4 linked regions of the Homo sapiens genome follow. The protein of the gene in region 2 purifies or fractionates together with the protein of the main gene of each other region. This does not show direct contact. Each region holds a gene or a part of one and is shown on either strand. Other genes may lie near its edges. The genes, in order: DSG3, SIK1, APOBEC3A and FBXO22.

The links.
Region 1: the proteins of SIK1 (region 2) and DSG3 purify together in Homo sapiens (affinity purification with mass spectrometry, with the first as the bait; one large-scale study listed by BioGRID). This does not show direct contact.
Region 3: the proteins of SIK1 (region 2) and APOBEC3A purify together in Homo sapiens (affinity purification with mass spectrometry, with the first as the bait; one large-scale study listed by BioGRID). This does not show direct contact.
Region 4: the proteins of SIK1 (region 2) and FBXO22 purify together in Homo sapiens (affinity purification with mass spectrometry, with the first as the bait; one large-scale study listed by BioGRID). This does not show direct contact.

What each region holds. Positions count from the first base shown.
Region 1 is NC_000018.10:31,453,303-31,458,620, forward strand, and holds part of DSG3 (desmoglein-3 preproprotein), read left to right. Parts: intron 1-3,137; coding exon 3,138-3,173; intron 3,174-3,690; coding exon 3,691-3,822; intron 3,823-5,142; coding exon 5,143-5,298; intron 5,299-5,318. UniProt on the Homo sapiens protein: A component of desmosome cell-cell junctions which are required for positive regulation of cellular adhesion. Required for adherens and desmosome junction assembly in response to mechanical force in keratinocytes.
Region 2 is NC_000021.9:43,415,628-43,420,945, reverse strand, and holds part of SIK1 (serine/threonine-protein kinase SIK1), read left to right. Parts: intron 1-488; coding exon 489-712; intron 713-940; coding exon 941-1,087; intron 1,088-1,467; coding exon 1,468-1,593; intron 1,594-1,708; coding exon 1,709-1,925; intron 1,926-2,404; coding exon 2,405-2,686; intron 2,687-3,171; coding exon 3,172-3,403; intron 3,404-3,828; coding exon 3,829-4,204; 3' UTR 4,205-5,318. UniProt on the Homo sapiens protein: Serine/threonine-protein kinase involved in various processes such as cell cycle regulation, gluconeogenesis and lipogenesis regulation, muscle growth and differentiation and tumor suppression. Phosphorylates HDAC4, HDAC5, PPME1, SREBF1, CRTC1/TORC1.
Region 3 is NC_000022.11:38,959,535-38,964,428, reverse strand, and holds the end of APOBEC3A (DNA dC->dU-editing enzyme APOBEC-3A), read right to left. Parts: intron 4,888-4,894; coding exon 4,743-4,887; intron 3,043-4,742; coding exon 2,748-3,042; intron 2,332-2,747; coding exon 2,216-2,331; intron 1,935-2,215; coding exon 1,920-1,934; 3' UTR 1,245-1,919; downstream 1-1,244.
Region 4 is NC_000015.10:75,912,659-75,917,976, reverse strand, and holds part of FBXO22 (F-box only protein 22), read right to left. Parts: intron 4,775-5,318; coding exon 4,687-4,774; intron 3,868-4,686; coding exon 3,772-3,867; intron 748-3,771; coding exon 583-747; intron 1-582. UniProt on the Homo sapiens protein: Substrate-recognition component of the SCF (SKP1-CUL1-F-box protein)-type E3 ubiquitin ligase complex that is implicated in the control of various cellular processes such as cell cycle control, transcriptional regulation, DNA damage repair, and apoptosis.

The sequences.
Region 1 (5,318 bases), on a different chromosome or scaffold from region 2:
TAGTCAGGCCCTAGGCCTGGCTGGGATGAGCTACCTGCATCTAATCCATAGTCTTATGTTCTGTCCCCTGCCACACTAAAGCATGAGGTAACCCCAAACAAGATCTCGGCCAAACTAAAGAGCAGGTGCTATTATACTTGCTTTTTGTTTAATCTAGCTACCCATATCCTCAGATTATATTTATTGTGTACATACCATATTCAATAGGAACCTTAGTGATACAACCATATACATTTTTATTAACAAATAGAGCATATGGATATCAAATTGCTTTATTTCATATATTTTTTAAATTTAATAATTAGATTTGCTTTTGATAATATTTGTAATTCATATCTATACCAAGGCACTAAGGCTATATCAATGCTTTAAAAATCATATAATTAAAATTTACAAAATAACCAGAAAACAAAAAGAAAGAAAAGTACAGTAATTCTCAAGATAAGGGAGGTTTTCTCCATGTTGGTATTTCCAATCCAGGCCACCAAAAGAGACAACTTAGTTCATTCAAATCGTCAGAAAACTATGTAAATATTTATTGGCTTGATTTAGTCATTCCACAGTTTATACATATCTCAAAACAACATGTACATGATAAATATATACAATTTTGTCAATGAAAATAGATTTACAAATAAAAACACATAAATTGTTTTTAAAATGTCCAAAATTATTATATTAGCAAATTAACTAAAACAAGTAGCCATTATATAAATATTAACTAAAATAATTTTTTTAAAAAAATACTATTCTAAATAATGTAAGGCTGTGCTGTCCTCTAAAAATCTGAAGATCATTGCAATATTCAGAAATGTTTCCCATCACCTACTTCCTGGGAAAACAAATATTCTACCTTATTGTGTATTAGAAGAATCATTCTCTGTAGGGCTAGTCCAAGCATGATTCATATTTTCGGGATGACTCTCCAGTTTTCCTGTAAAGGGGAGCCTGCCTGGCCCATCCCTCCTCTCATGTGTAGCTGAGTCATTTTTATGCGCTGAGAAAGGAATTGTGCAGTTACTACATTTATCTGGTCTTTTCTACCAAGTAACTCAAGGTACTGCTTTAAAAAGAGCAACAATGTTGGAAAATAATTTTGAGACATGTTATAACCACAAGTAATGGTTCTTTTCCATGACAAATTTGAACACGCACTCTTTGGAATCAAGGTTTCAGCTGGAATGTCTAGAAGGGAAGAGTCCTGACATCTTATGTCTGACATAATTACTCATTTGGTTCAGACTTGGACTAGTCTATTCATTATAACCCTAGAAAATAAACAATCTACATTGTTTCAAGAGCAACCATAGTCTTTTGCCAAATAGAAATCTAAATTGACTGTCATATAATTTTCTTTGTACCATTAGTTTGTTTTTTTTTTTTTTCTCTTTATGACAACTTTGGTTAGAATTTAGCAGTAGTTGGCTCACACCTGTAATCCCAGCACTTTGGGAGGCCAAGGCGGGTGGATCACCTGAGGTCAGGAGTTCGAGACCAGCCTAACCAACATGGTGAAACTCCGTCTCTGCTAAAGATACAAAATTAGCCGGGTGTGGTGGTGTGCCCATGCCTGTAATCCCTGTTACTCGGGAGGCTAAGGCAAGAGAATCCCTTGAACCCGGGAGACGAAGCTTACATTGAGTCAAGATCGCACCATTGCACTCCAGCCAGGGCAAAAATTGCACTCCAGCCAGGGCAAAAAGAGCGAAACTCCGTCTCAAAAAAAAAAAAAAAAAGAATTTAGTAGTAGTGAGGTACATGCTCTGGAGTTAGGCTACTGCGGTCGCTATCCTATTATGGCCATTAGCTAGGGCAAAGTATTCATTCCCTTGCATCTCCAATTCTTCATCTGTATACTAGGGATTATAATACTAGAATCTCCTTCAGGTGCCTGCTGTAAGTATTACATAAAACAGTAAGTATAAAGCTCTAGGAGTAGCAGCTGATACCGAAACTACACAATAAACATTAGCTACTGTTATTACTCTTCTAGTTTTTTTTTTCTTCTGACTTATTTTCCACCATTATTTTCCGACCAGATTCATCCGATAATCAGTGGATTAGCAAATACTTGTTAAGCACCTGTGAGGGTTACAAGAAAAAAAAAATAACCTAATAGCACTGAACTGGAAAGTTTACAATACTCCTGGCTTAGCACAGAAATTCTTTCATGTGCATAAAACAAGAAATAATAAACTGTGGTAAACCATCATGGGCTAAATTTCATGGTACAGAATATGTGTTGTACAAACTCAGAAAAAGAGACATCAGTAAAGACAATTTCATGGAGGTTGTTGGAACTTGATGGATCTGGAAGGATGAGCAATATTTAAGTGGGTGGAGTAGAAAGAGGTAATGCATGCCAGGCAGAACAGAAGATGAAAAATGACACAGATGAATGTCTCATATGCTCTTGAGAAGGTGAAGACCCTAGCCTACATGGCTTCATTTTACTGTCATTTAATTTTTTGGGGCCACTCTGAAAATTAAGTTCAATATTTAAATTGAAGTAATAGAGCAGAGATGAACAGATCCATGTCTCACTGCAAACAGGGTTTGTGATTGGAATAGCATATCCTCATCTTTTACGTTTTGTTCTCTAAACCAGACTGGTTCCATTCCATTCTTTTCACTTGTACAATTAAAGAAAATGTTCTGTAATTGTAGAGGACTAATACAGGATTGCCTTCCTACAAATCAGTTGGGTGGCTGAAGGTTTTTAATAATCCCCTGTGGCCCCTTTCTGAAGCATTTCACAATGGTGCTTACCAATGTTTCCCAAAGCAATGACTTTCATAGCTTCCAGGAACGGTGTATAAAGCAGCCAGGTAAGAATTGTGTGGTTGCTGCAACTGACTATTAGGCATAGTTTTTGCAAAGTCCAATAGGTTCTTCTTTATGTCATCAAAATTCTGTAGTCAATTAAAAAACTGGTGGAATGTGTTTATATTGACAGTAATATTCCTTTTCCTGGTAGGAACTTACCCTTTGATTATGGCTTCTTGAAACTTACTTCTTTTGAAATAGAAACAAATCACAATATGAACAATAGAATATAATAATCAGGATTATTCATTGTATATAATTCCTTATTTGAAGAATTCACATTTAATTCGACTTTATTTAAATGTCTGCAGGTGGTCATATTGGTTCATGGAGAATTGCGAATAGAGGTAAAGTATGAAAAAGGTTTTTGTACTTAAAATAATAGTTTAGTTTAAAAAAAAATTAAATTGTGTTTAGTAGAAATGAATATTTAATTTCTAAAATTATTCAATAATTTAATTGTGAAAATATATAAAATTAAAATTCTAATAACTGATAACAATATTTTAAAACTAGTCATCCATAAATGTCATTATTATAATTTATTTCATGCATTCTTTTCTTCTTATCTTAAACAAATCAGCTGGTCAAACCCTATGGGCCCAGTAAGATACTGTGGAGTATAAAAAGAAAATATAAAATACGACTAAATGCTAATATTAAAAATCACATAGCTTTGTAGTTATTTTAGTTATTTAACATTTATTACTTGCTTGACAAAGTATCAGGTAGAGCTAATTAGATACCTAACAGTCTTAGTGATCTTGAAACATAGGGGGTTCCTCAACTAGGTGTCTGTAATCAATATTCTAAGCAAAAATTGCCATTAATTTCCATAACAAATGGAATCCCTTTTTACATAAGACTAAAGGTCAATATGATGAAGAAGAGATGACTATGCAACAAGCTAAAAGAAGGCAAAAACGTGAATGGGTGAAATTTGCCAAACCCTGCAGAGAAGGAGAAGATAACTCAAAAAGAAACCCAATTGCCAAGGTAAGTTATATCAACAGGAGCGTATGAGTTTTTAGAATAAATGTATAAGGTGTAAATTAAAATAATACGGCAATTCCAAATAACAAAATGAAGACTGGGGAGTCCACAGAACAAGTGAACTGGTATCCTCAACAAAATAGTACAATAATAATAATAATGAGAGAAAGAGAGAAAGGAAGGTAGCTTCTAGGGTTATGAAAAAGAATTGAGACAAAGAATTGAGACATATTGACCAATTTTAATATAGAAGGCTTACTTGGATACAGAGTCTAGCAAACAAATAGGAAAAATAATGCATGTATAAGACAGAAATGGTTGGGAGCAAAATATGGATTGGTCATGTATTGATAACTGTTGAAGCTCAGTGATAGGATGTATCAGGTTTATTATACTATTCTCTTTCTTTCTTTCTTTCTTTCTTTCTCTTTCTTTCTTTCTTTCTTTCTTTCTTTCTTTCTTTCTTCTTTCTTTCTTTCTTTCTTTCTTTCTTTCTTTCTTTCTTTCTTTCTTTCTTTCTTTTTCTGAGATGGAGTCACTGTGCCTCCCAGGCTGGAGTGCTGTGGCGCGATCTCAGCTCACTGCAACCTCCTCCTCCCAGGTTCAAGCAATTCTCCTGCCTCAGCCTCCTGAGTAGCTGGGATTACAGGCGTGTGCCACCATGCCCGGCTAATTGTTTTTGTATTTTTAGTAGAGACGGGGTTTCACCATATTGGCCAGGCTGATCTCGAACTTCTGACCTCATGATCTGCCCACCTCGGCCTCCCAAAGTGCTTGGATTACAGGCATGAGCCACCACGCCCAGCCTGTTATACTGTTCTAACTTTACATATATTTCACATTTTTCATGTTAAAAAGCTTTAAAATTACAATAATAATAAGTAAATTATTTTAATACATATTTTAACCCTACCATACAATCTCTTTCCCTTTTTGTCTCTCCACTTCCCCCTATTTAAACTAAATAAATATCTTTTGTTTTTTAATGTTGTCAGGTAAAGAGGGAGCCTTCAGGAGTAGCCTTGTCAATATTAAATGACTTTGACTTTCTTTTAACATTTTAACACTATCATGTGGCCACAGTCTGAGCAAATATTCTAACACTAAAATGATTAGTGCACATCATTGGTTCAGGCTGGTTGTCAAAAACAACGGTTTGATTTTATTTCATATTCCTAGTATCTATCAAGGCAAAAAGTAAATGGCACAATGTCAAAAAGAGTGAATCGAATGAACAGATGACTTTAGACTATGGAAGTGGGGGTGGAGAGGGAAAGGCTTGAGTGATGGTCACCTCAACGTTTTTGGTATTTGGGGCTGTAGATTACTTCAGATTACCAAGCAACCCAGAAAATCACCTACCGAATCTCTGGAGTGGGAATCGATCAGCCGCCTTTTGGAATCTTTGTTGTTGACAAAAACACTGGAGATATTAACATAACAGCTATAGTCGACCGGGAGGAAACTCCAAGCTTCCTGGTAAGTTTGGGTCCTCAACA
Region 2 (5,318 bases):
CTGAGTCCTTGTTGAGTCTGGGAATCAGGCCCAGGTTACTGTGGGCTGCGGGAGAAACCCAGCCCATGGATGCCTTCTCAGTGCCCTATTTCGAGGGTGGACGGGTGCCCTTGCTGCACAGGCTTGTGCCTTGCGCCTGCCGTCCCCGCCCAGTACCCGCACCCAGGGTGCTGGCATCATCCCTGAGTCCAACCCACTGGCTGTGGCTCACCCGGCTTTTCTGTGTCATAAAGATGCCTGTCCACCTGGTGCTCAGGTGTGGGGCACGGCAGAAGGGTGAACCTAAGTGGTTCTCTGTGTGGTGGACACAAAGTGTGGCAGCCCCCAGGGTCTGGATCCCTGGCTGATGGCTCCCCTTGGGTGGCAGGACTGAGCCGATGGCCCGGCCCCTGCTCCTGGGCCCTGGCGTGTCAAACCACGTGGGGCGGTGGGTGGGAGCGCAGCCGAGGTCCCGGCCGCCCTGGCTCAGCCTCCTGGCCCCTCCACAGACTGTGAGAGCCTGATCCGCCGCATGCTGGTGGTGGACCCCGCCAGGCGCATCACCATCGCCCAGATCCGGCAGCACCGGTGGATGCGGGCTGAGCCCTGCTTGCCGGGACCCGCCTGCCCCGCCTTCTCCGCACACAGCTACACCTCCAACCTGGGCGACTACGATGAGCAGGCGCTGGGTATCATGCAGACCCTGGGCGTGGACCGGCAGAGGACGGTGGAGGTGAGCCTGGCCACACTTGCCCTGGCCTCACCCGCAGGGGCTAGGCAGCTGTCTCAGGGGAAGCAGGCACTCACCAGCTGAGTTAAAACGGGAGCACAGGCTAATTTAGGGGCCGGCTTGTCCACCCCACTAAAGGATATTCTCAGTCACCCAAGAATAACCTGGGATCGGGTGGGCCCTGGGGCTCCCCGCCATCCCCATGCTGATCTCTGCTCCTCTTGTTCCCAGTCACTGCAAAACAGCAGCTATAACCACTTTGCTGCCATTTATTACCTCCTCCTTGAGCGGCTCAAGGAGTATCGGAATGCCCAGTGCGCCCGCCCCGGGCCTGCCAGGCAGCCGCGGCCTCGGAGCTCGGACCTCAGTGGTTTGGAGGTGAGGGGGAGGAGTCTCCTCCCAGGCCCCAGGCTCCCTCCCCTGTCAGGCACCGGCTTGGAGGGCGGTTCCTTGCGTGGGCAGTGGGTCCCAGGCCTCGTGGGGAAGGGGGTGCCAGCTGCTGGGGGCTGGACTCTGCCCAGAGGCCACTTGTCCCTGACTCATCCCTGGGGCCGGCCTGTCACGCCACCTTCTGGCAGCGCAGCACCAGCACCTGGTCCTGAGCCCAGCCTGGCCAGCCAGTGTCCCTCCGTCAGCTGTCATGCCCACCAGCGAGGCAGCTTGCACTCCAGACAGAAGCCAGCTTGTTTCTTCTCTTGATGGCGCTGGTGGTCCGGAGTCGCTCCCCTGACAGCGTCTTTCCCGTCTGCCGGCCCCAGGTGCCTCAGGAAGGTCTTTCCACCGACCCTTTCCGACCTGCCTTGCTGTGCCCGCAGCCGCAGACCTTGGTGCAGTCCGTCCTCCAGGCCGAGATGGACTGTGAGCTCCAGAGCTCGCTGCAGTGGGTGAGTGCCCACAGCGGGTGTGCAGAGGGCTCGCCTCAGCCCAGCCCTGGTGCCCCCGGTGTGCCCGGGTCACCTGGAGTCCGAGAAGTCACTGGCTTGTGTCTCTCCAACGCAGCCCTTGTTCTTCCCGGTGGATGCCAGCTGCAGCGGAGTGTTCCGGCCCCGGCCCGTGTCCCCAAGCAGCCTGCTGGACACAGCCATCAGTGAGGAGGCCAGGCAGGGGCCGGGCCTAGAGGAGGAGCAGGACACGCAGGAGTCCCTGCCCAGCAGCACGGGCCGGAGGCACACCCTGGCCGAGGTCTCCACCCGCCTCTCCCCACTCACCGCGCCATGTAAGTGTCCCCGGGGGCCCAGGAGGACACCGGTGGATAGGCTTACGGTCGACGTGAGGGTGGGCTAATTTAGAATGGACGTTTTGCCCGGCAGCCTCTCAGGTTGGACTTCTCAGGATTTGCCATTTGTTTTAATCCCTGAGACCACACAGTTGATGTTTAGAGCCTGCCCTGCATGTGGTCGTTCCAGTGGAGGATACAGCATGGGGTCTGGCCTCCAGCAGGGTCCTCCCCAGGCCGCCCCTGGGTGCCGGGAGGGCAGCCCCTTGGCCTGAGGCCCACTATGACCTGCCCCCTGCAGCTGCACCGTGATGGTGGCTTGCCTTTGTGGCTCCCTGGGCTCTGGTGGCCTCGAGCCCTCTTCCCACCAGGTTGATGGTGGGGATGGGGAGGCCAGCGCAGCCATGTGTGCCCAGCAGTGGCCGGGGGAGCCTATTCCTTTGCACTGCAGCATCAAAAGCGCTGTCCTCCCCCCACAGGTATAGTCGTCTCCCCCTCCACCACGGCAAGTCCTGCAGAGGGAACCAGCTCTGACAGTTGTCTGACCTTCTCTGCGAGCAAAAGCCCCGCGGGGCTCAGTGGCACCCCGGCCACTCAGGGGCTGCTGGGCGCCTGCTCCCCGGTCAGGCTGGCCTCGCCCTTCCTGGGGTCGCAGTCCGCCACCCCAGTGCTGCAGGCTCAGGGGGGCTTGGGAGGAGCTGTTCTGCTCCCTGTCAGCTTCCAGGAGGGACGGCGGGCGTCGGACACCTCACTGACTCAAGGTGAGCCACGCTCCTCCCACACTTACCTCCACCTTCCCCAGGGGACCATGTGTGTCTCTGGCAGTACGTGACTTTGTCCGTGATGGCAGATGGCACCCCCTGTTCTCCACCGGGCCTGGGTGGGACCCTCAGTGCTCTGGGCAGGCTGGGGTGCTCAGTGCTCTGGTGGCTCGGGGCGTCACGGCCTGCTGGGATAGACACACATGGGTCCCTGAGCACGCGGCCTCCATGGCTGGTTCTGAAAGCACAGGAGACGACTCTGTGCTGGGCAGCACCTCCCGACTTGGAGGAGGGAGGGCCCCTGGCTGCCGGCTGCCTCCACGCCATCCTGGGGCTTAGGTGCCAGACTCCTGTCCAGACGTGCTTGTGTCACCCGTCCTTTCCTTACCCCCAACCTGAGGCTTGGAAACCCCTTAAGCCAAGGGCCGTGGATGCTGGGCTGAGAGCCGGGTGGCCGTTGACCTCCTGATTCATTCTCCCTGCAGGGCTGAAGGCCTTTCGGCAGCAGCTGAGGAAGACCACGCGGACCAAAGGGTTTCTGGGACTGAACAAAATCAAGGGGCTGGCTCGCCAGGTGTGCCAGGCCCCCGCCAGCCGGGCCAGCAGGGGCGGCCTGAGCCCCTTCCACGCCCCTGCACAGAGCCCAGGCCTGCACGGCGGCGCAGCCGGCAGCCGGGAGGGCTGGAGCCTGCTGGAGGAGGTGCTAGAGCAGCAGAGGTAGGGCCTGCCCCCGCCCTGGGACCCCGGGTGGGCACACGGCAGGTTATCTCCTCGAGGAACCTCATCTGCTAAGTGGTTCCCTCCTCTCTGTAGCCCAGTGCACACCCCCGCTCCCAGCCAGGGAGATGTGTGGGGCGTAGGTCCTAGGTGCTGAGCCATGGGGGTGCAGCAGGCGGGCGTGTCCTTTAAAGTCCCTGGGTGGGTGAGGGTGGCGGGGAGCGAGGGCGCCTTGTGGCCGCATCTCTGAGCTGCTGAGAAACCGGGTGGAGAATGAAAGGTGGGGCGCGGTCAGGGATCAGCCACGCACCTGCCCTCGGCAGCCGCGGCTGGCAGCTCCTCGGGCGGGCCCTGCCACACGGGCACTCGGAAACCCGAGAACCCTGCGAGCCGGCGCAGTGACCACCTGTCCTCTGTTCCCACAGGCTGCTCCAGTTACAGCACCACCCGGCCGCTGCACCCGGCTGCTCCCAGGCCCCCCAGCCGGCCCCTGCCCCGTTTGTGATCGCCCCCTGTGATGGCCCTGGGGCTGCCCCGCTCCCCAGCACCCTCCTCACGTCGGGGCTCCCGCTGCTGCCGCCCCCACTCCTGCAGACCGGCGCGTCCCCGGTGGCCTCAGCGGCGCAGCTCCTGGACACACACCTGCACATTGGCACCGGCCCCACCGCCCTCCCCGCTGTGCCCCCACCACGCCTGGCCAGGCTGGCCCCAGGTTGTGAGCCCCTGGGGCTGCTGCAGGGGGACTGTGAGATGGAGGACCTGATGCCCTGCTCCCTAGGCACGTTTGTCCTGGTGCAGTGAGGGCAGCCCTGCATCCTGGCACGGACACTGACTCTTACAGCAATAACTTCAGAGGAGGTGAAGACATCTGGCCTCAAAGCCAAGAACTTTCTAGAAGCGAAATAAGCAATACGTTAGGTGTTTTGGCTTTTTAGTTTATTTTTGTTTTATTTTTTTCTTGCACTGAGTGACCTCAACTTTGAGTAGGGACTGGAAACTTTAGGAAGAAAGATAATTGAGGGGCGTGTCTGGGGGCGGGGGCAGGAGGGGAGCGGGGTGGAGGGAACACGTGCAGTGCCGTGGTGTGGGGATCTCGGCCCCTCTCTCTGGGTTCGTCGTGGTTGAGATGATTACCTCGGACGTCTACGGAAACGAGCGGGCGCATTGTTGTCCGCTTGTGTGTGTGTGTGTGTGTGTGTGTGTGCGCGTGCATTGATTACTATCCATTTCTTTAGTCAACGCTCTCCACTTCCTGATTTCTGCTTTAAGGAAAACTGTGAACTTTCTGCTTCATGTATCAGTTTTAAAGCAGCCCAGGCAAAGATCATCTACAGATTCTAGGAATTCTCTCCCCTGAAATCAAAACCTGGAAGACTTTTTTTTCTTATTTTAGTTGAGAAGTTTCATAAACTGCTCAAGGATTAGTTTTCCAGGACTCTGCGGAGGAACGGCAGGAAGAACCTCAGAGAGGGCAGAGGTGACTTCAAAGTGCTGGGGACTCCGTCCTGAGGGTCACTTGGCCCTGAGCCCCTGCGTGCCCTTGCGGAAGCCCAGAAGCTTCTTCCTGCTGCACCTCCCGTTTCCGCTGCTGCTGACGTTTATGCATTTCATGATGGGGTCCAACAAGAACACCTGACTTGGGTGAAGTTGTGCAATATTGGAGGCTGACTGTAGGGCTGGGCAGCTGGGAGACAGGCTCATGGCTCATGGCTCATGGCTCAGGGCGGTGCCTGCCCTGGGCCGGGACCCCCCTCCCCACCCCCCACCTAGGCTTTTTGGGTTTTGTTCAAGGAAGGTAAAGTGAGAGGTTTAGGTCAGTGTTTTTAAGTTTTTGTTTTTTTTTTAAAGCAAATCCTGTATATGTATCTACATGGGAGACAGGTAGACACTACTTATTTGTTACATTTTGTACTAT
Region 3 (4,894 bases), on a different chromosome or scaffold from region 2:
CCCAGGTCATGGGCAAAGCTGTGAGTTGAGGCCCGGGGGACAGGAGCCTGGGCCCTTGGAAGGTGGGGTTCTGGGGGACGAGGGGCAGGTCTCTCTGGGAGCTGCCCTGTGACATGACTAACTCTGGTGTTCTTTCACCAGGTGAGCCTCTCATGCCTCCCCTACACTGGTCCCTTTGCCCAGAATGACTGCACGTTTTTCATCACTTGCTTCCAACAAGTGGAGTTAGGACTGTTATCAAACCCAGAGACACAAGCAAAGGGCAGCTTTGACAAGCCGGTCCCTCCCGCACCCGCCCCTGCGTGGGAAATGCCAAAGTCCTCTGCTCAGGGCGGGGCTGGGGTGCGCCCCGGAGTGCTCTGGGGCACCTGGAGGAGGTTTCTTTGTGTGAAGTCTCTGTCACTGTGTGTGGGTGTGTGTGTGTATGTGTTTTGTGCATGTGTTGTGTGTGTATGTGTTGTGTGTGTTGTGTGTATGTGTGTCTTGTGTGTGTTTGTGTGTTGTGTGTGTCTAGGCCAGGGAAACAGTGAGTCGTTTCTGCCCAGGAGCAGCTGCATGTGAGGCCCGTTCTTGGTCTTATATGCGGCTTCTGAGGACTTTCCAGAAATCGTGAGGTGGGAGCCGCCGCTGTAATCAGGCATATAAGTCACACATCCCAGAGTTGGGAACCAGCGCAGAAGGCCCAGGACAGACGCCAAGCTGAAGCCACAGCCCTGACACCTGCCGCCCTAGCCCTGGGCTCCGTCTCTGCCTCTGGAGCCTCCTGTCCCCGGGACTCAGCTCCCCTCCCCTCTGTGGCTGGGCTCTGCCTCCTGGGCTGCTCCTCTCCCCAGCCCTCTCTTTGGGCCCAGCCTAGACACCTGCCCCCTCCCTGGGCTCCTTCCCCCGACTGGGCCTGTCCTGGGTCTCAGCCATGGCCTCCCCTGGGCTCCCTCTCTAGGGGGGTGGAATCAGGAAGGGGTGGACAGAGGGCGGCTCCCGAGGGCCCCTGACTGCACGTTTGTGGTTCCTTTCCAACAGGGAGACTGGCTGCTGGCTGTCCTCTTACTGCTGGGCCTGTCCCTTCCAATCAGCGCCCGGGGCTCTGTAAGTGAGGGTGGGCGGGGCTCTGTGAGTGAGGGTGGGGTCTGCATTTAGGTTCCTCTCCTGTGAGGTTTAGCTGAGTTTTCTGGATCCAGAGGGATGTTGTGTGACCTTTCCCCGCTACAGGTCCGCTACACAAGGAAAGACATCTACACATTTGCTAGTGTTTGTGGAAACTCTTGCAATTCATGACACAGTTACTGAGCAAAAGCAATTATGGAAGATTCTTAATTTTGTGTTAGTCTAGATATGAAGCCAAATTATCATTTCATTTCATTAATACATTGAAAATTATTCTGAGAATATTGAGCATAATCTTACTATTGTGTACTTGGAACATAAGAGAAATTTTCAGTTAAAATTAATTCAGTCTGGTTTTTTTTTTTTTGAGATGGAGTCTGGTACTGTCGCCCAGGCTGGAGTGCAGTAGCGCAATCTCGGCTCACCGCAAGCTCTGCCTCCCGGGTTCACGCTACTCTCCTGCCTCAGCCTCCAGAGTAGCTGGGACTACAGGCGCCCGCCACCACGCCTGGCTAATTTTTTGTATTTTTAGTAGAGACAGGGTTTCACCGTGTTAGCCAGGATGGTCTCGATCTCCTGACCTCGTGATCCACCCGCCTTGGCCTCCAAAGTGCTGGGATTACAGGCGTGAGCCACCGCGCCCGGCCCACTCTGATTTTTTAAAAATCTACTTGATCGGGAGCATACTGCTTTGCTGGCGTCTGTGAGCAGCTGGAGATGGTGGTGAACGGTCTGTTTGCATTTCTTGGAAGAAGATCTTTTATTCTGCTGCTCAACCCAGGTCTCTGCCTTCCTTAGAGACTGAGGCCCATCCTTCAGTTTCCCTGATTCTGGAAGAGCAGGGGGGTTGAATGGAGCAGGAGGTGAGAGAGTGGAAAGAGGGCACAGGGAGGTGGCCTGGGGACAGTGACAATGACGGGAGAGGAGGGAGGGATGCGGGAGGTGGGAAAGAGAAGGAGGCTGTGAGAAGGAAAGGGAGGGACGGAGCTGGGCGCCCTGTGGGGAGCAGGGAACCCAGAGGAGGCTCTGAGCAGAGGGGAAGGCAAGGCCCAGGGGAGTGGGGAGGAGGGGGAGGCCGATGGGGCACCGGGCAGAGGGAGGAAGCCCTCACCTGGAGAATGGCCCGCAGCCTCCCACTCAGGGCTTGGCTGTGCTCATCTAGTCCATCCCAGGGCTGGAAGGGACATCCCTGGTGGTCCACAAAGGTGTCCCAGCAGTGCTTAAATTCTGAAAAGGGACAGGGGAGATAAGTCACGCTCCCGCTGTGGGATCGGGGTGGCACCTAGGGCCCATGACTCTCAGGACAGACTTCCCACATCCTGGTTTCAGTCCCTCCTTTCCCTCTCCCTCCCCTAGGGACTTAGCTCCTTCATCAGGCAGTTCCTTCCCATTGGAATCTGGGCCAGCCCAGTTCTCATTCTTTCAGAAAGCCCCAAGTTCTGCTTCCACTTCCAGCCACTCTCCCTGCCCTCCCTGGGCCCACATCTCCTGGCCTGGCCTCTCTCTTCCCATCGACCCCAAAGTCAGGTCCCAGAGTCCAGCCATCGTTTCTGCAGGCAGCAGACCAAGGCCTTTCTCCTTTTCTTCCCAGGAACCTCTCCTGCCCCCACCCACCCCACCCCACCTGAACCTTCCATTCTTACCATCGTAGGTCATGATGGAGACTTGGGCCCCAGCATCCCGCAGCATTTGCAGTGCCTCCTTATATAGGGGGTCGTAATCATAGATGCGGGCAGCGAAGATACGCAGTCTCACGTGTGTGTTCTCCTGAAGGAACGCACGCACTTCCCCGGCACAGCCCCAGGAGAAGCAGGGGCTCCAGGAGATGAACCAAGTGACCCTGTAGATCTGGGCCGGGTCCAACTGCAAAGAAGGAACCAGGTCCAAGAAGCGCAGCTCCGCATGGCGGCCGTAAAAGCCACAGAGAAGATTCTTAGCCTAGAAAAGGAAACAGAGTGTGAGGTGATGTGTGGTGAACAGGGAGGGAGCGCCTGGACCAGGTGGGGCTGGGGAGGCGGGGGCCTCCAGCACGAAATTAGAGGGGTCACCAAAACCCCGGTTATTAGGATGCATGATTTTCTATGCAATATTAAAAATATCAGATGTTATGCAAAAATCCCAAGATAAGCAAAATGTTGCCCATTTAAATACAAACAGATCAGGAGCAATGAGGTTTTATTTTGCCCCAGCTCCACTATACACAGGACAGCACTCTCCTGCCAGGCTTTATTAAAATCTTTGCTTTTATTCATCATGATCTATTTGTATTAAATTTGCGTTTTAAAATATTGCATTAATTATTAAATTAAAATGTGTTTTCTCTAATTACTGAGCATTTGGAGCCCCCATCAATTTTGTACCCAAGGTCAGAGCCTTCAGGACCCTCACCCCAGACCCAGCCCTGCAGGGAGGGGCTACAGAGATGGGGGCAGGGAGGAGGGGCCGGCGGAGCCCCGAGGTCATTGGCCTGATGGCCCTGAGTGAGTGTGCTTCCTTCAAGGGGAGATTGACCTGCTCTACTCATCAACTCCCCTACTCCCATCCCATCTGTGGCCCATAATTCTAGAAGCTTCTATTCTGTGCCACAACCTGTGCTGAGCCCAAATGTGATATAGACTTAGGCCAAAATGAATTCCACCAAAAGTAGTGGGGAAGAGAAGACCAGCAGGACTCACTCCAACGTGGGAAGGTCCCTGTGACATGGTATAATTGTCATTATTTTGACTTATAGAAATATGGTATTTACTCCAAACTCCAGAGAAAAGGATTTTCCACTAAGACTAGGAATCGGTCAAGTTGGGGACAGCAGGGCAGCAAGGACTGTGATTGTGATGGGGACAAAGACAGGGAGGGACTCCATCAGCAGTGATGCAGGGTGGAGTGGATGACATGGTTTGTGCTGAGAAGGGGCTGTGGGTCGTTCCTGGGGGAGTCCCACTGCTTAGGCGGTGATGGAGACTGGCACCCTTGAAAGGATGTTCCAAGCAGTGTGTGTGGATCCAGCGAGGCCCACATTGAGCTCATAGAGCCCAGAGAAGGTCCCAGTTTCCAGCACCGGAGCCAAGCATTACCTGGTCTCTCCAGACAGAGGCTGTGCTGGGTAGGGGCCAGGGAAGAAAGTCCCCCGGGCTCAGGGCCCCTCAGCCTGGCCTGGCCCAGCTCCTCCCCAAATGCTGGACATCCCTGCATCCTGACATGGGACCTGTTCTGGCCTTGCTGTGGGCTCCACCCTGGGCAGGACAGGATCCCTGGTCAGCCTCTCCTGCCTCAGTCTCTCTCCGTGCAGGATGAAGCCCAGGAGAGGGCACTGGGGCATCCTGGCCTTGTGAGGTCAGGTAGGCCCTGAGTCCTCAGATCCCACATTGCTGAATTGTTCCTGGTGAGAGCTGTGTCTGTGAGGGGATCCTGGGAGGGTCCTCAGGAAGCACTTTGCCATTGGGCAGACTCAACCCCACCTGGGCATGGATAGTCACTGAAGCCGAAGTCTCCCCCCAACCCCAGGGCCAAGCAGCAGCAGCTGCAGGAAGCACAAGTGACAAACACTGCAGGAAACCACAAGTACAATCCGGAACCTTCTACCTATGAATGTCCCTGGATTGGAAGGGCCCTGCCCGGATTCGGATGGCTGGGTCGGTCACCTGGTTGTGTAGAAAGCCCCTGTGCTGGTCCATCTTGACCGAGGTGCCATTGTCCAGGCGCTCCACTTCGTAGCACAGGTAGGTCTTATGCCTTCCAATGCCATTGTTAAAGTTGGAAGTGAATATGTGTGGATCCATCAAGTGTCTGTGGA
Region 4 (5,318 bases), on a different chromosome or scaffold from region 2:
TAAGCCAACCCTTTACCTCTTCAAATTCACTTCAGGGCTCCATCCACACTACCTGCAGGATGTTTCCCAGCACACCCCTTGCTTGATAGACTTGCCTTAACTCATATATTTCCTAAGACTCATCAGGGTCACTTTACTTGTTCCCATCTTTCTAATTAGTTCACAAAGAACTAACCCGCGTATTCTAAAAACTTCTAAAATGCTTGTTACTAGAATAAAAAAGGTTAACAAAACAAAAATAGAGCAAAATGAAATAAACTATTAGAGCAAGAATTCCTTAAAATTCAGAACTAAATACAAACAAGTTTATCATCAACAGAGTATTTATGAAAAATTTTTCATCTCTGGTTCTCTTGGGCTTTAATGCAAGTAAAATAATTTAAAAAGTAAATCAATTCTACCAAACATGTATCACACTGGCCTCTGTGAATCACCTGTTTGAATTAGCCACATCTCCAGTGACAGGTGTACTTAATTCAGATTCTCCCAAAGGAACCTAATATCCACCAACTAGCCAGAATTAAAAAGAAAACAAAATTAATCAATAAAATGAGCAGTTAATGATAAATAAAAGTAACTTACCTACTTCAGTGAGTTGATGTCTTTCTAATGTTAAATTCTTTGGATCCTTAATAAAATGAAAGGGTTGTATTTTTATTCCTTCAATTTGAGGGAATAATAAAGCAAAACCAGATTCTCCAATTTCTATTTCCTGAGGTCGATTGCTACCTGATCCCATTGGAGTCACTAGAGAAAAAGTTAAACAGTTTCACCAATAGAGTCAGTAAAAACTAGATAACTACAGTTTAGGTCACTAAGATAATCATTAAGCTAACAAGCCACTATCTGAGTAAAAGTTTTTCAGCTTTGACAGTTTTAGGGTGTAGTGTCATGATGTTTGCCATTTAACTTTCAAATGGTTCAGAAAGAAATTTTTTATAAGCAAAGTGAGAAAAAATAAATGTTGCAAAATTTTTTCAACTGCTAAACTAGATAAAGGGTATATGGGTATTTATCATGCTGTTCTATTATTCTTTCAACTTCTCCATATTTTTCAAATTAAAAAGTTGGGGGGGTAGTAAATACACTTTCACAGCAATTCCAATTTTTAAAAGTTTACCCTAAAAATATTTGACAATTATATAAAGTATATATATACCCAAGTATTTTATCACATAATTTCAAATAGAAAATAAAAAGAAAAAACCTGAATGTCCCACACTGGTATTCAGATTAAAAGTTACATTGGTATCATAGAATATAGCCATTAAAATGATGACAAATATATATTTATAGACATGGAAATATGTTTGTAATATGCTCTGAATTTTACAGGTAGATATTACAGATTGAACTGTGTCATTCCCTCCCTACTGCCTACCCCAAATTCATGTTTAAGCCCTAACCCCCCATGTGACTATATTTGGAGATAAGGCCTTTAAAGAGATAGTTAAGATTAAATGAGGTCACAAGGGTAGGACCCTAATCCAACAGGACTAGTGTCCTGAGAAGAGGAGGAAGAGACACCAAGCATGCTTATGTATGAAGAAAAGGCCACATGAGAACACAGTGAGAGAGCAGCTGTAAGTAAGCTTCAGAGAGACCATCCCCGATCTTGGACTTCTAGCCTCCCAAACTGTGAGAAAATAAGCTTCCGTTGTTTAAGTCACCCAGTCTGTGGTATTTTGTTATGGTAGCCCTAGTAGACTAACACAGTAGGTTACAAGTCTACAGAAAATTGTATTCTGGTTTTTTATATTTACATACATATATAAATAGAGGTTAACATCATAAGAGTGGTTAACTCTGTGGTGCTTAAAGGTGCTTTTGCTTATCTGAATCTTCTAATTTTTTTTTTCTAAAAATAACTATTACTAGTATAAAAAAAGAAATAAACTTTTTTTTTTTTTTTTTTTTTTTTGGAGACAGAGTCTTACTCTGTCACCCAGGCTGGAGCGAAGTGGTGCAACCTCTGCCTCCCGGTTTCCAGCAATTCTCCTGCCTCAGCCTCCCAAGTAGCTGGAATTACAGGCATGAGCCACCATGCCCAGCTAATTTTAGCTTTTTTTTTTTTTTTGAGACAGAGTCTTGCTCTATCATCCAGGATGGAGTGCAATGGCGTGATCTCGGCTCACTGCAACCTCTGCCTCCCGGGCTCAAGCAATTCTCCTGCCTTAGCCTCCTGAGCAGCTGGGATTACAGGTGCCCGCCATCATGCCTGGCTAATTTTTGTATTTTTAGTAGAGATGGGGTTTCACCACGTCGGCCAGGCTGCTCTTGAACTCCTGACCTCATGATCCACCCACCTCGGCCTCCCAAAGTGCTGGGACCACAGACGTGAGCCACTGCGCCTGGCCAATTTTTACATTTTTTAGTAGAGATGGGGTTTTGCCATGTTGGCCAGGCTGGTCTCCAACTCCTGACTTCAAGTGATCCGCCTGCCTCGGCCTCCTAAAGTGCTGGGATTACAGGTGTCAGCCACCACGCCAGGCCAAAAAGAAATAAACTCTTTTTTTTAAAAAAATGTTAAGCCCTTTAGAAACCACAGCTAGAGCAACTGAACAAATAATATTCATTTGTAAACATGTAAAATTCTTTTTACCTCACTGTATAAGACTCAAATTCAGATCAAAAATCTTTCAGTGAAGATTAAAAATGACAATTCTCAGTAGAGTACTACTGAGTTGGAACAAAAAAACATAACAGCAGCCAGGTGCAGTGGCTCATGCCTGTAATCCCAGCACTTTGGGAGGCTGAGGCGGTGGATCACCTGAGGTCAGGAATTTGAGACCAGCCTGGCCAACATGGTGAAACCCGGTTTCTACTAAAAATACAAAAATTAGCCAGGTGTGGTGGTGGCGGGCGCCTGTGATCCCAGCTACTTGGGAGGCTGAGGCAGGAGAATTGCTTGAATCCAGGAGGCAGAAGTCGCAGTGAGTAGAGATCACGCCATTGCACTCCAACCTTGGTGACAAGAGTGAAACTCCATCTCAAAAACAATACATAAATGACAGCTAACATTTACTTACTGCTTTGTGTATCTCTATTGTAAATGCTTTACAAGTGTTAACTCATTTAATTCTCACAACCCTCCAAGGAAGGTACTACTGTCATCATCCCCACTTCCTTGATGAGGACAGTGAAGCCCCATGAAGTTAGGTAACTTGCTCAAAGTCATACAGATACTAAGCGGTACAGCCGGCATTCGAATCCAGGTATCTAACCATTGCACCATTACTGCCTCAACAGAATCTCTCCTCCCCCAGTTAACTACAGAAAAGAATCAAAAATAATAAAAACCAGCAAAAATTCACCAGCAGCAATCAAGCATGGAAAGGGGCACAACCTCATGCTGTAAACATTGAAGAGTGGTACCAAAGCAGAGAAACAGAAGTCTCCTAGTAAGGCCCAGCTTTGCTCCTAATCCCAGCCCCATCTCACCCCTACCCACCAAACACAATACTGCTTGAACTGACAAAACTCTGAAAATGCCCACAAATACTTCCTAATTTGGAGGAAGGCAGAATGAGATCATTCCCCTCTTATGAATGACTACTGGATATTTATACAGGTAACCTTGAGATGAGAAGTACAATAACTTAATAAACATTAATATAAGGCAAATATAATGCCATGGTAAATATGACTGACTTTATTGTATTTTAGATGGACAGAAATAGAAATGTGGTTCTAAGCTAAAAATAACTCACCAATCCAAAGGACCCCACATTAATGCAAGGAAGAAATCATCAAGTTGCTAATTTATCTCACCTACAATTCCTGGGGTCACAATCCCAAGGACTTGGCATTGTTTGGGGAATAGCTTCTCAAGGGCAAGTGCTGTTTCCATACTAGTTCTTTTCCTTGCTGTAAAAATACAGTAGCAAAATGATAAATATCATCCATTTAAAGTCAAATCTGAGAATGAAAAAGTAAAAAAGCAAATACTGGAAATATTTAAGTCATTTAACACGAGAATGCTCTAAATAAAGGTCTAAAAGCATTGATTAAAACAAACACTTTACCTGTTTTGGTCCTGGCTTTTAAATTATAAATCTGATCTTTTGCACCACTAGTCTGCCTTTCCCCTCTGTTCATATATTGCTTTTGCCCCAGTGATGTCAAATTTAGCAGTAACAGCTGAATTTTAGACTTGCTATTGTACCTTTCTGTTCAGCTGATATTGCAGTATAACTACTATTTGCATCAACAGTCACCTGGATCAAATTAGACAATGAGAATCCATTATCTAAGTCTAACTTGGGACCTGAGTGTGCGCATCTTGGATACCCATTCTGCCTTTTCCCTCAGCAAGCCAAAAATGCACCATTTCTCTACATAACTTTAGTAAATGGGACCTCATGTTCCAATACAGTAAAAGGCCTGAATAGCCAAGTCATACAACCTGTTTTAATAATAAAAAGTGCCTGGAGAATTAAAGCATCTCAAATTGAGAACAACACCTTTCTAACGAATTTGTTTCAATTGCACTACAAGGTTTAGAAATCAATCTGAAGCAGAAAGGGTTCCTCAAGGTTCAAAGATAGATATATTGATGCATACTACAGGTGGCAGTCCCAGAGCCTCAGAAAGTCAGTTAACTCTCAGGACAAGTATAATATTGAACTCCGAACGGAAGGCACATGATAAAAAAACAGAAGCAAAAGCTTTTCTTTTGATATTTACCTCTCTTATGGCCACGACACTCTTCCAGACTAATGAAAGTTTCTGAATCAGCCATGTAAAGAACTGTATGTGGTAAGATGCGAACATTCTGCAAAGAAAAAAAAAAAATTGGAATTGGATCCCATGAATCCATCAGTGCTTCTGCATAGTCCCTTGAAGTATCACCCAGTCCATAGTGCAATCAAATTAGAACTCAGGATTAAGAAACTCACTCAAAACCACACAACTACATGGAAACTGAACAACCTGCTACTGAATGACTACTGGGCAAATAACAAAATAAAGGCAGAAATAAAGAGGTTCTTTGAAACCAATGAGAACAAGGACACAATGTACCAGAATCTCTGGGACACAGCTAAAGCAGTGTTTACAGGGAAATTTATAGCACTAAATGCACACAGGAGAAAGCAGGAAAGATCTAAAATTGACACCCTAACATCACAATTAAAAGAACTAGAGAAGCAAGAGCAAACAAATTCAAAAGCTAGCAGAAGGCAAGAAATAACTAAGATCAGACCAGAACTGAAGGAGATAGAGACAAGAAAAATCCTTCAAAAACTCAATGAATCCAGGAGCTGGTTTTTTGAAAAGATTAACAAAATAGACTGCTAGCCAGACTAACAAAAAAGAAA